Linked DNA regions of Homo sapiens. The protein of the gene in region 1 interacts with the protein of each later gene in a biochemical or structural test. Each region holds a gene or a part of one and is shown in the gene's direction. Other genes may lie near its edges.

Region 1 (2,328 bases):
GAGTGGATAGAACAGGAATGAAGTGTTACTGGTGGTATTTCAGGCATCAGGAGCCTTGGAAAATCATCGTAGGGGCCCATGCCTGTCTGTCCCTAGGCACCTGGGCAGTGCCACAGAGGCCCGCCCACGACTGGCCAGGGGACAGAACTCCAGTAGTGCATCCCTGTACAACCTGCACATAACGGTTATGTATGTTCACCTAAAGGAGAGAATATACTTTCTATTCCTATTGCACAAAAACCTTGTAAACTTTGAGAGGTGCTGAAAAAGCCAATTCTGCAAGCTCTCCTAGAGGACTGACATTGTAACATTAGAGTGAGAAGATTTCTCTGCCACATTCTTTTGTGTTAATCCAGGTGTGTCTTCACACCCAGTGAGTGGAAGTTGCTGGAGCTCGGTACAGGTCCACCCAGCTGAAGTGGGTTCTTTTTCCCACTACCACTGGGGCAAGGGAGTGAGCCTAGGTATGGTCACCTCAGCAGCCACAGTCTTAAAAGCAAGTCGCTAGATTTTTTGAAAGTCCCAAGAGAAGTGGTGGTCTTCCCTTCTGTCATCCCAGTATATATAGTTATACATGTAAATATCTAAATACCCCATGTAATGGGAAGGCTATGTACAGGGCAGCCTTCCCAAACGCTGTGAGGGCACAGAGCTGCTGTGGCTGCTCCACCAGGGTGTGCTGGTGGCTCAGCTTTGGGGTTGGACTCCCACGTTCACCTCCCCCTCCTGGTCCAGGCAGAGGCACCAGAACCCATCCTGCCTTTTCTCCAGTGTGAGCATTTCAGGGAGCCACCATCAGCCTTGGGTTCATGAGAGGAAGAAACCCCCAAAGACCAATGCCTGGAGCCCACTTCTCCAGCGACACCTTCCCTCGCCAGAGCAGGCTCCTAGGAGTGCATGGCAGGGGTGCCGGGTCCCTGTGCACGGGTTTGCTTTCTGAACATTGCCCATCAACACCGCCTTCAGGGAGTCCCAGAGTAACCTACTACCTCCCCCATCGCTCCTCTGCCCCCCTCACCCTGTGGGCACCAACACCTCCCGCACACAGATGAAAACCATCTACAGAGCCCTTCCCGGGTCCCTCGACCCAGTGGTGTAGCCGTTACCAATGTTTACAACCAGGGGCCGCCCCTCCTTAGATGTGTTTACTCGCATTCACAGGCCACCTGTTGGTTTGAGTTTCATGTGTCTCCTTCCCTGGCCTAGGTTGACTTGAGCACACAACTCGATCTTTCTTCCCCTCCATCAAGGCAGTGTGTGAGGACTGTGTGGGAATGACATTTCTTGTACATACTTAGCACAGCACCTAGAGTATGAACTTGTACTATTGTTCTGTAAAGAGGGTGAAATAGAGCTTATTGTAAAGTGTCGGGAGAAGTATAGTATTGTATTTGTAACAATATCGTTCTTTGTATACACAAAACTCAATGATCTATATATAAATATAAATAAATATATAAATAAAATATATCTACACGTGAGCCTGGAATGTGGACACCGCACACCCACTGAATGTACTTCCTTGACAGTCTGGTCACTGGTCCCTCCCTCCCTCCCTCCTCCGTCCCGTGGCCACAGTCATCCAGTTTGGGGTTGTGATGTATTTACTGTGCTATCTATCTTCCTTTATTTAACTGAACGCTAATGTCTGTATAAGAGTTGCTGCAACAATAAACAAGAACTTCACCTCTTGGCCTGGCCAAGTGTCTTCTTGTTGCAGGGAAGGCTTGGGATCATGTGATGAGTTTGTCTTTTCCCTAACAGACTGACTGACTAGCTCCTACCCACCCTATAGGCGCCCAGAGCCCAGGAGTTCTCTAAATGAGCTTTTATTCTGTGGAACTGACTTGGTTTTAGACAAGAAAGGCTCTGTTCTCCTGTCCCAGTTGATCCTCCAGTCCTGTGGGTCTCCTTTGAGCACACTGAACTGGAGAAAGAGAAATTCTCCGGATTTCTTACTTGACATCCTCCATGAGGGCAGGAAAACAGGAATTAATTCTCCCCCACCTCAGTCATCTCCCGTAAGGGAGGTACCTTTTTGTAAGGGACTAAGATCTAAGTGGACGGTGGAAAACAGCGCCCTGAGAGGCCCATCCAAAGGTTCTGTGAGAAGGTTCTGGAAGGTTTCCTCCTGGTGCTCTTTGGAAATTCACTTTTTGAAGGTTGCCAGGCATGCCCTCCCTGCTGCCGGGGGCATGCTGGGGGCCCTGGACTCCCCAACACAGAGTGTCCAGCCCTGTTCCAAAGCAGACTGCTTGTCAGCTTTTTCTTTGCATACACCCCTCCCCCATCTTCCCTGCAAAGCTTTTTGCAGCCCCGTCAGGTCTG
Region 2 (3,658 bases), on another chromosome or scaffold:
CCCTAGTTGGACTGAGATCCCTGTGTCTTCCTCTTGCCCCCTGGAACCCAGATGGCAGGTCCTGAAGACAGGAACCAGACCCTCTCCCTCTCCCCTTGTCCAAGGATCCAACACAGTCCGCAACACATGATAGCGGTGGTCCAGGATGTTTTGCTAAATCTTTGGATAAATTTCACTGGGTTGACAGTGGGTACTGAGCCACCATCTCCATGTGCAGACCCTGTGGGACCATGTGGGGGACCTGTGCTACATGCAGGGATGGGACAGACACAGAATGAGCACATGGCCTTTCTGTGAAGAGAGGTGAGCACCCCAGAGGCTCACTCAGGGGTTGGGGCCCTAAGTGGGATGTGTGGCCTTTCAGAGAATCCAGGCCTGCAGCTGTGCTGATGAGACAAGCGAACGTGGGGGTCAGGGACATTCCAGGTGCTGGAAACCATGCAGAGTGGCCAGAAGGCCCTGAAACACCTGTTCTGGGAGAGCCAGTCACTGACCCTGTGTCCAGGGGCCATGGTGGTGACTTCACCCAGCCTGTGTCCTTGCCATCTGCTTACACATGGCAGCAGGCTGACCACTGAGCCACAGCCTGTGTGCTTCCCATCTCCAGGGTTCTCTGGGGCCTCAAGATGCCCTGGGTCCTGGGGAAGCTTGCATGGACAGAAGGGGAGATGTGAGTGCCTACACAGGCTTCTCAGACCACCTGCTGGGACCTGCAAGTCCTCTGTCCAACTTTACCAGCTGTGACCCCCAGGGGCCCTTCTCAGTGCTGTCAGCCTGGATTCTGAGGTATAGGTTTGGGCAGTCACGAAGGGAAGAAGGTGCCTTGAGTCTGGGAACCCACGACCCTGAACAGCTGGCAAGCCCTTTTGTGTTCTCCTCTGTGGGGTTCCAGCTAACACCTGTCCTCTGTATGTGCTCCAGGTGTTCTGCTGCAGGTGGGGGTGGGCTGAGCATGACAGTTCCCTTAACCCTGGGATCTGGACCCCTCCAGCCTTCCTTTGGCCTTAGACAAGCCACTCCCTTTTGCTGGCATCAGACGCTTGTTCAACCAAGGGGCTTCCAGGGTCTTCCCTAATGTTAGCATTAAGCAGGCTATGACTCTTGAGGAGTGTCTGGGGCGCTGTGTTCTGGTGGAGCAGGTCCCTGCACCAGAAAGTGGTCCTGTCTAAACCTGCCATTTCCATATTAAAGTGACTTATTCAGCACTTGCTCAGTGCCCAGGGTGAGCCACACATGGAAGAAGATCAGACTCTGAAATGCTCACTGCTTTCTCTATCATTCAGCCAAGACTTATTGAGGGAATGAATGAATGATACGTTCCTGGAGGTGGCACTGAGCATTTCAGACTAAGTTAGCCAGCTCAACCTCCTTGTGAGGTGGGGCCTGTATCCCTCATCTTGCGGATGGGGAAACTGAGGTTGAGCTGGTAACCAGTGAAGTGTGGGTGTGAGCCAGGTCTGTCCCATGTCAATCTGGAACCATTTTCTTATCTGCTTCTTCATGGTATTTCCTCTAGCCCAGCACCAGCCGCCGGAACACAGATGACAGGGCTGTGTACACACATGCTCATGTATGCATACACATATGCACTAAGATATAGATGGCAGGGCTGTGTACCTACACACACACACACACACACACACACACCAAGACACAGACAGCAGGGCTGTGCGTGCACACACACACACACACCCGAGACACATATGCCTGGGGTCTCTCTTGAGTATATGATGAGCACCAAAGCAGAGGTCAGGTGAGGGAAGTTTAGGAGCAGGGAGGTCCTGTCGTCTGGAAATGGGATGACCGTGGAGACAGGCCCTGAAGGACAGGGGGCATTGCTCAGTGGGAGGGAGGATGTTCCCCATGGGGAAATGTGTGGAGCAAAGGCATGAGGAGGAAGGGGAGGGGATGTTTTGGTGGGCAGAGGTTGGGAAGGGCAGTGGGGAAATCCTGGGACAAGCAGCTTGTGTCAGACCCTGAGAAAGTCCAAAGGACTCATTCCCATTGCTGGGAACATGAGTCCCTGCAGTGGCCTCAGCCCCTGGTTTCCCAGAATTGGAGGGGGTCTTTGACCGGGAGGGGTTGGTCTTTACTGGCCTGGAGCCCTCCTCTGCCGCCCCTGCAGGCAGTGGGATGGTCCCCAGGTCTTAGAGTCCTCAGGATGTTCCCAGGCCCCTGGGACTCCTAAGCTGGAACTGGAGCCTCTTTGCCAGCCCTGATCTGCCTGAGACCCTCTCACCACCTCCCAAGGAGTTTGGCCCAGGGTCTCACTGCCTGATCCCTGCCTGTGCCACTGCCTGTGAGGCGGTGAAGTGAAAAGGTGGACTTGTCCTGTCTTGGGGACAGGTCCCTGTGTGGAGCCTCCTTTCTGCACTGACAGGTAGGTCAGGGTGGAGGGTGAAGGACTCCGCTGGAACGGTCTCAGGCTTGCAAACGGAGCCTTGCTAGTGAGTACTCAAGTTATGGCCCCTTGGGCCTCCCCTGTCCTGGCATCCCCAGTGTGAACTGTAGTGGAATTCTTATGGCTGTCCCCTCTCCAGGTGGGTGTCCCAGAGCAGGCGGCTGCAACGAGACAGGCATGTTGGAGAGGCTGCCCCTGTGTGGGAAGGCTTTCGCAGACATGATGGGCAAGGTGGACGTCTGGAAGTGGTGCAACCTGTCCGAGTTCATCGTGTGAGTGCCACTGCTGGGCGTGGGATTTGCTCTGACCACAGCGCTGCCCACTGCCCAACCACTGCCTGACCACAGCCTGACCGCACTCTACCCAAGGCCTCACCCATGCCTCACCCACAACCCACCGTAGGCCACCCACAGCCCTTTCATGTGCTGCCCCACACTTTGCCCAGGGCCCCAACCACGCTCCTATTCACACTCTGCTCTTGGCTCTGGCCACCCCACCCACATCCCCCTGGCACATCACTCACGGCCCCGCCCATGCCGTGCCCCTGCCCACGGCATTTGTGCTCCCCACACCCACAGCGGGTTCCCAGCTTCCTACCCCCCATTCCGCATCCTCACTCTGATGTTCTAGCAATTCTACACTGTGCCTCTGCTTCTCCCTCTCCTCTGTTATTTAGGAATCCTCCCCATGCCTGCTTTTCCTCCTGATCCAGATTAGTGCCCTGCCCTGGGAGTGTCCAGTTCGGGGGTTCCCTGGCCTGGGGGTGCCCTGTCTGGGAGGTGCTCTGCCTGGAGGGTGCCCTGCCCGGGGAGTGTCCAGTTTGCGGGTGGCCTGGCCTGGGGGGTGCACTCTCCCAGGGGTGGGTGCTGCCCTACCCCAGGGGGTGCCCTGGCCTGGGGGATGCCTTGCCTGGAGGGTGCTCCACCTCTCCTTACAGCTGGAGCTGGGTGGACATTGTCATGTGTCTTTCTTACAGCACCAGTCATGGCTGGGTCTGTCCTCAGTGGTCAGAGGACTTAGAGGAATTGGGTTCCAATGGTTTATATCAGGTGTAATTGTGGACAACACCTCATAGTGAAGGGAGGTCCCCTTGTTCTAGAAGCTTCCCAAGCTTTTCATCTCCTTACCTCCTTGGAAATTGCTCATGGCCTCACAGTCCTCTGCCCCACCCCACTCCACCTCTGGCTTTGCAGTCTTGTGCCACCCCCTGGTGGCTGCTGCCAGACCCTAAATGTGCTGGCCTCATGCTTTTGCATG
Region 3 (3,658 bases), about 42 Mb from region 1:
TATCTCTGCTTAACTTTGTTGCTACTTGGTGTTCAGAAGTTGGAATGCTGGGAAATAATATACGCTTGATATTTGGTTTAAACATTTCTTGATTCAGAGAAGGTAGATGGTTATAGAGACTAATGAAAAGAACAGACTTTTATATTTGTCTTGACAAAGTTTTAAATATCCTTTGCAGAAAGAAAATTTGTAAAGTTTAAACATTTTTGGAAATATCTTTAATTTATTAAGGAAATCAATATGTATTTAGCATGTAGTCCATAGAACAGTTGGATACTATACAACAATGAATAAGCAAGCTAGAATCTCTGCGTTTATAGGGTTTCATAGCCTAGTGTAGAGGGGATCAACAGATAATTAAGCAATTATGATACAGTGATTCCCTGGACCAGCAGCCTTGGCATTACTTGGGACCCTACCTCAGATCTACTGAATCAGAAGTTCTTGCGGGTTATGTCAGCAATCAGTGTTTTACAAACTCTCAGGTAATTCTGATACAAGAAACCACTGTTTTCACTGTTGAGAACCAGAGTTGAGAGAGAGAGCACAGCACATTAAATAGAGCTGAAGCTGAGAGTTTGGAGTCATTAATATCTTGAGTTGAGGCTGGAGAGGCAGGTAAGTAAGGTCTGATAAGATGATTGAAAAGTTTAGACTTTTATCTAACGTGCACTCATAAGCCCTTAAAACATGTCCAGTGGGGAAACAGCTTGATCAACTTTGTCTTTTTTTTTTTTTTTTTTGAGATGGAGTTGGGGTCTTGCTTTGTTACTCAGGCTGGAGTGCAGTGGCATGATCTTGGCTCACTGCAACCTCCACCTCCCGGGTTCAAGCGATTCTCCTGCTTCAGCCTCCTGAGTAGCTGGGATTACAGGTGCCCACCACCATGTCTGACTAATTTCTGTATTTTTAGTAGAGAGGGGGTTTCACCATGTTGGCCAGGCTGGTCTCGAACTTCTGACCTCAAGTGATCCACCCACTTTGGCCTCCCAAAGTGCTGGGATTACAGATGTGAGCCACTGTGCCCTGGACTGTGATCTCTTTAAGAAGCAGACAAGTAAAGAGATAAATAATTATACAATGTATTAAGTATAATATTTGAAGCATAATCTAAAAGCTATTAAAGTCTAGATAAGGAAAGAGACTTTAGATGCCTGGGTAAGTCAGAAGACTAACCACTTAAGTATTTCACGTTGTTCTTGGAAGTTTTAGTGTACAACCTATGGATATTCAGTAGAATATTTGATCAAAAATAGTGGTTAAAAGTGTCATATGTTTTGGGTAATTTATTAGATTCAAAGCAAAATAAAAATGAAAAAGTAGAATGTGAACCGTCTTCAAGATATATTTTTTAATTTTAGGGGTCCCAGGTAAACTTAGAGCTTCAAGAAGAATGACTTACTCTATGTGATGTATACTTTTCTAATTTCTAGTTTGTTACTTATTTTCTAATTTTGTTTAAATATATTATTATATATAATTACATATTATAATTATATATAATTATATATTATATATTATGATAGATAAATAAACATATATTATTCTGTTTTAAACTGTCTCAATCCTTTTTAAAGTGATTATTATAAATATTGTAAATAATAAGCAAATATATTCTTATCAATGATGTTGAAGAATAAGTAAACATGTTATAAAGCATTTTCACTCCACACTTTAAAAAATATGCTGCATCTAATCTAAGTATATTTTACTTGTAGAACATTGTCAAAGGGTCACCTACTCTTTGGAGGTTACGTTGGGTCCTCCAAAAAGAAAAAAAATTCTCAAATGTCATAGATTGGTTGACAAGTCCTATTCTGAACTTAAGGAGTTGTGGGGGTAGGCAGTGCTGACCACAGGAATGTTGAGCAGCAAATGCTGGCTTTGGGCAAAAAACCTTTGATGCACAGTGACTTGTTTGAAATGTTTGGAATGATGGTCCTTGTGGGAACCTGCATTACAAAATGTCTGTCCCACATGGAACATACTGTGTGAGAATAGAAATGCAGAATAATAGGGCAATGATACCCTATCTAGAAACCAACTGTGTTTACAGATTCCCTAAATAACAGGTCAAATAGATTTTACTATGGTAAATATTCCAATTGCAATGTTCTGCAAAATTTTTGTCTGTCTCATGTATTTTAAGCAAGATTTCTTGGCCATGTGGCTTTTGTAGTAGACTTCAATGACATAAAACCACTAAGCAGAGACCTTGTCATTTATTTAACTCCAACTGCCTTTAATCTTAAGGACAGTAATATTGTGAGAAACCTTGGAGTTTCAACATAATCACAAGATGGTATGCAGGATCAAATGTTCAAATTATTTGCTTTTGTTTTTCTGTTGCATGTACTATAAAAGTCTTGTGTTATCTATATAAGCTTTAAATTTGGACCTGTGCCTTCTTTTTCATCATCTTTTCTCCTTTTTCTTTTAGTTCACAGCCATGAATGAACCACAGTGCTTCTACAACGAGTCCATTGCCTTCTTTTATAACCGAAGTGGAAAGCATCTTGCCACAGAATGGAACACAGTCAGCAAGCTGGTGATGGGACTTGGAATCACTGTTTGTATCTTCATCATGTTGGCCAACCTATTGGTCATGGTGGCAATCTATGTCAACCGCCGCTTCCATTTTCCTATTTATTACCTAATGGCTAATCTGGCTGCTGCAGACTTCTTTGCTGGGTTGGCCTACTTCTATCTCATGTTCAACACAGGACCCAATACTCGGAGACTGACTGTTAGCACATGGCTCCTTCGTCAGGGCCTCATTGACACCAGCCTGACGGCATCTGTGGCCAACTTACTGGCTATTGCAATCGAGAGGCACATTACGGTTTTCCGCATGCAGCTCCACACACGGATGAGCAACCGGCGGGTAGTGGTGGTCATTGTGGTCATCTGGACTATGGCCATCGTTATGGGTGCTATACCCAGTGTGGGCTGGAACTGTATCTGTGATATTGAAAATTGTTCCAACATGGCACCCCTCTACAGTGACTCTTACTTAGTCTTCTGGGCCATTTTCAACTTGGTGACCTTTGTGGTAATGGTGGTTCTCTATGCTCACATCTTTGGCTATGTTCGCCAGAGGACTATGAGAATGTCTCGGCATAGTTCTGGACCCCGGCGGAATCGGGATACCATGATGAGTCTTCTGAAGACTGTGGTCATTGTGCTTGGTAAGTTCTGTCTTGACTGTAACTTACTTTATAGATTCTCAGTGACTAACATAAACCACATTATTTTATGTCAGAGGTAACCAACAGTATGAATATTCACCAGGTAATTCACCAGGAATTACAAGGGGATGAGGCACCTTTATATTAAATGTCAGCTTATGAGTCTTCCTAAAATTATAGAATTAGCGTTAGGGAAACATGGGTCCCAGTGGTGCAGTATAAATGATGATGATGTAAAAGATGTCATTGAAGAGTTTGGCTATCTAATATTGAAAATACCAGAATTACCAGTCAAACTCATTCATTTTTCTTACAGCCTAAATTGTGAAACTTTTGCATTGTGGTTTCTGTATTACATATTTTCAGACAGAAAGTGCTTTTGTAGAATATGAATATGCTTCCATATATAGTTATTTTTGTTAGTCTATTCTGTAATTGTTGCTACATTATAGGTAGTATATCAAGGTTTT

Evidence for each region.
Region 2: the proteins of APBA1 (region 1) and RAMP3 interact in a test that uses a peptide from one of them, tested with the Homo sapiens proteins (one large-scale study listed by IntAct).
Region 3: the proteins of APBA1 (region 1) and LPAR1 interact in a test that uses a peptide from one of them, tested with the Homo sapiens proteins (one large-scale study listed by IntAct).

Annotation. Positions count from the first base shown.
Region 1 is NC_000009.12:69,426,897-69,429,224, reverse strand, and holds the end of APBA1 (amyloid-beta A4 precursor protein-binding family A member 1), read left to right. Parts: 3' UTR 1-1,693; downstream 1,694-2,328. UniProt on the Homo sapiens protein: Putative function in synaptic vesicle exocytosis by binding to Munc18-1, an essential component of the synaptic vesicle exocytotic machinery. May modulate processing of the amyloid-beta precursor protein (APP) and hence formation of APP-beta.
Region 2 is NC_000007.14:45,174,769-45,178,426, forward strand, and holds part of RAMP3 (receptor activity-modifying protein 3 precursor), read left to right. Parts: intron 1-2,540; coding exon 2,541-2,673; intron 2,674-3,658. UniProt on the Homo sapiens protein: Accessory protein that interacts with and modulates the function of G-protein coupled receptors including calcitonin gene-related peptide type 1 receptor (CALCRL), calcitonin receptor (CALCR) and G-protein coupled estrogen receptor 1 (GPER1).
Region 3 is NC_000009.12:110,940,951-110,944,608, reverse strand, and holds part of LPAR1 (lysophosphatidic acid receptor 1), read left to right. Parts: intron 1-2,440; coding exon 2,441-3,188; coding exon of another isoform or gene 3,189-3,268; exon of another isoform or gene 3,269-3,658.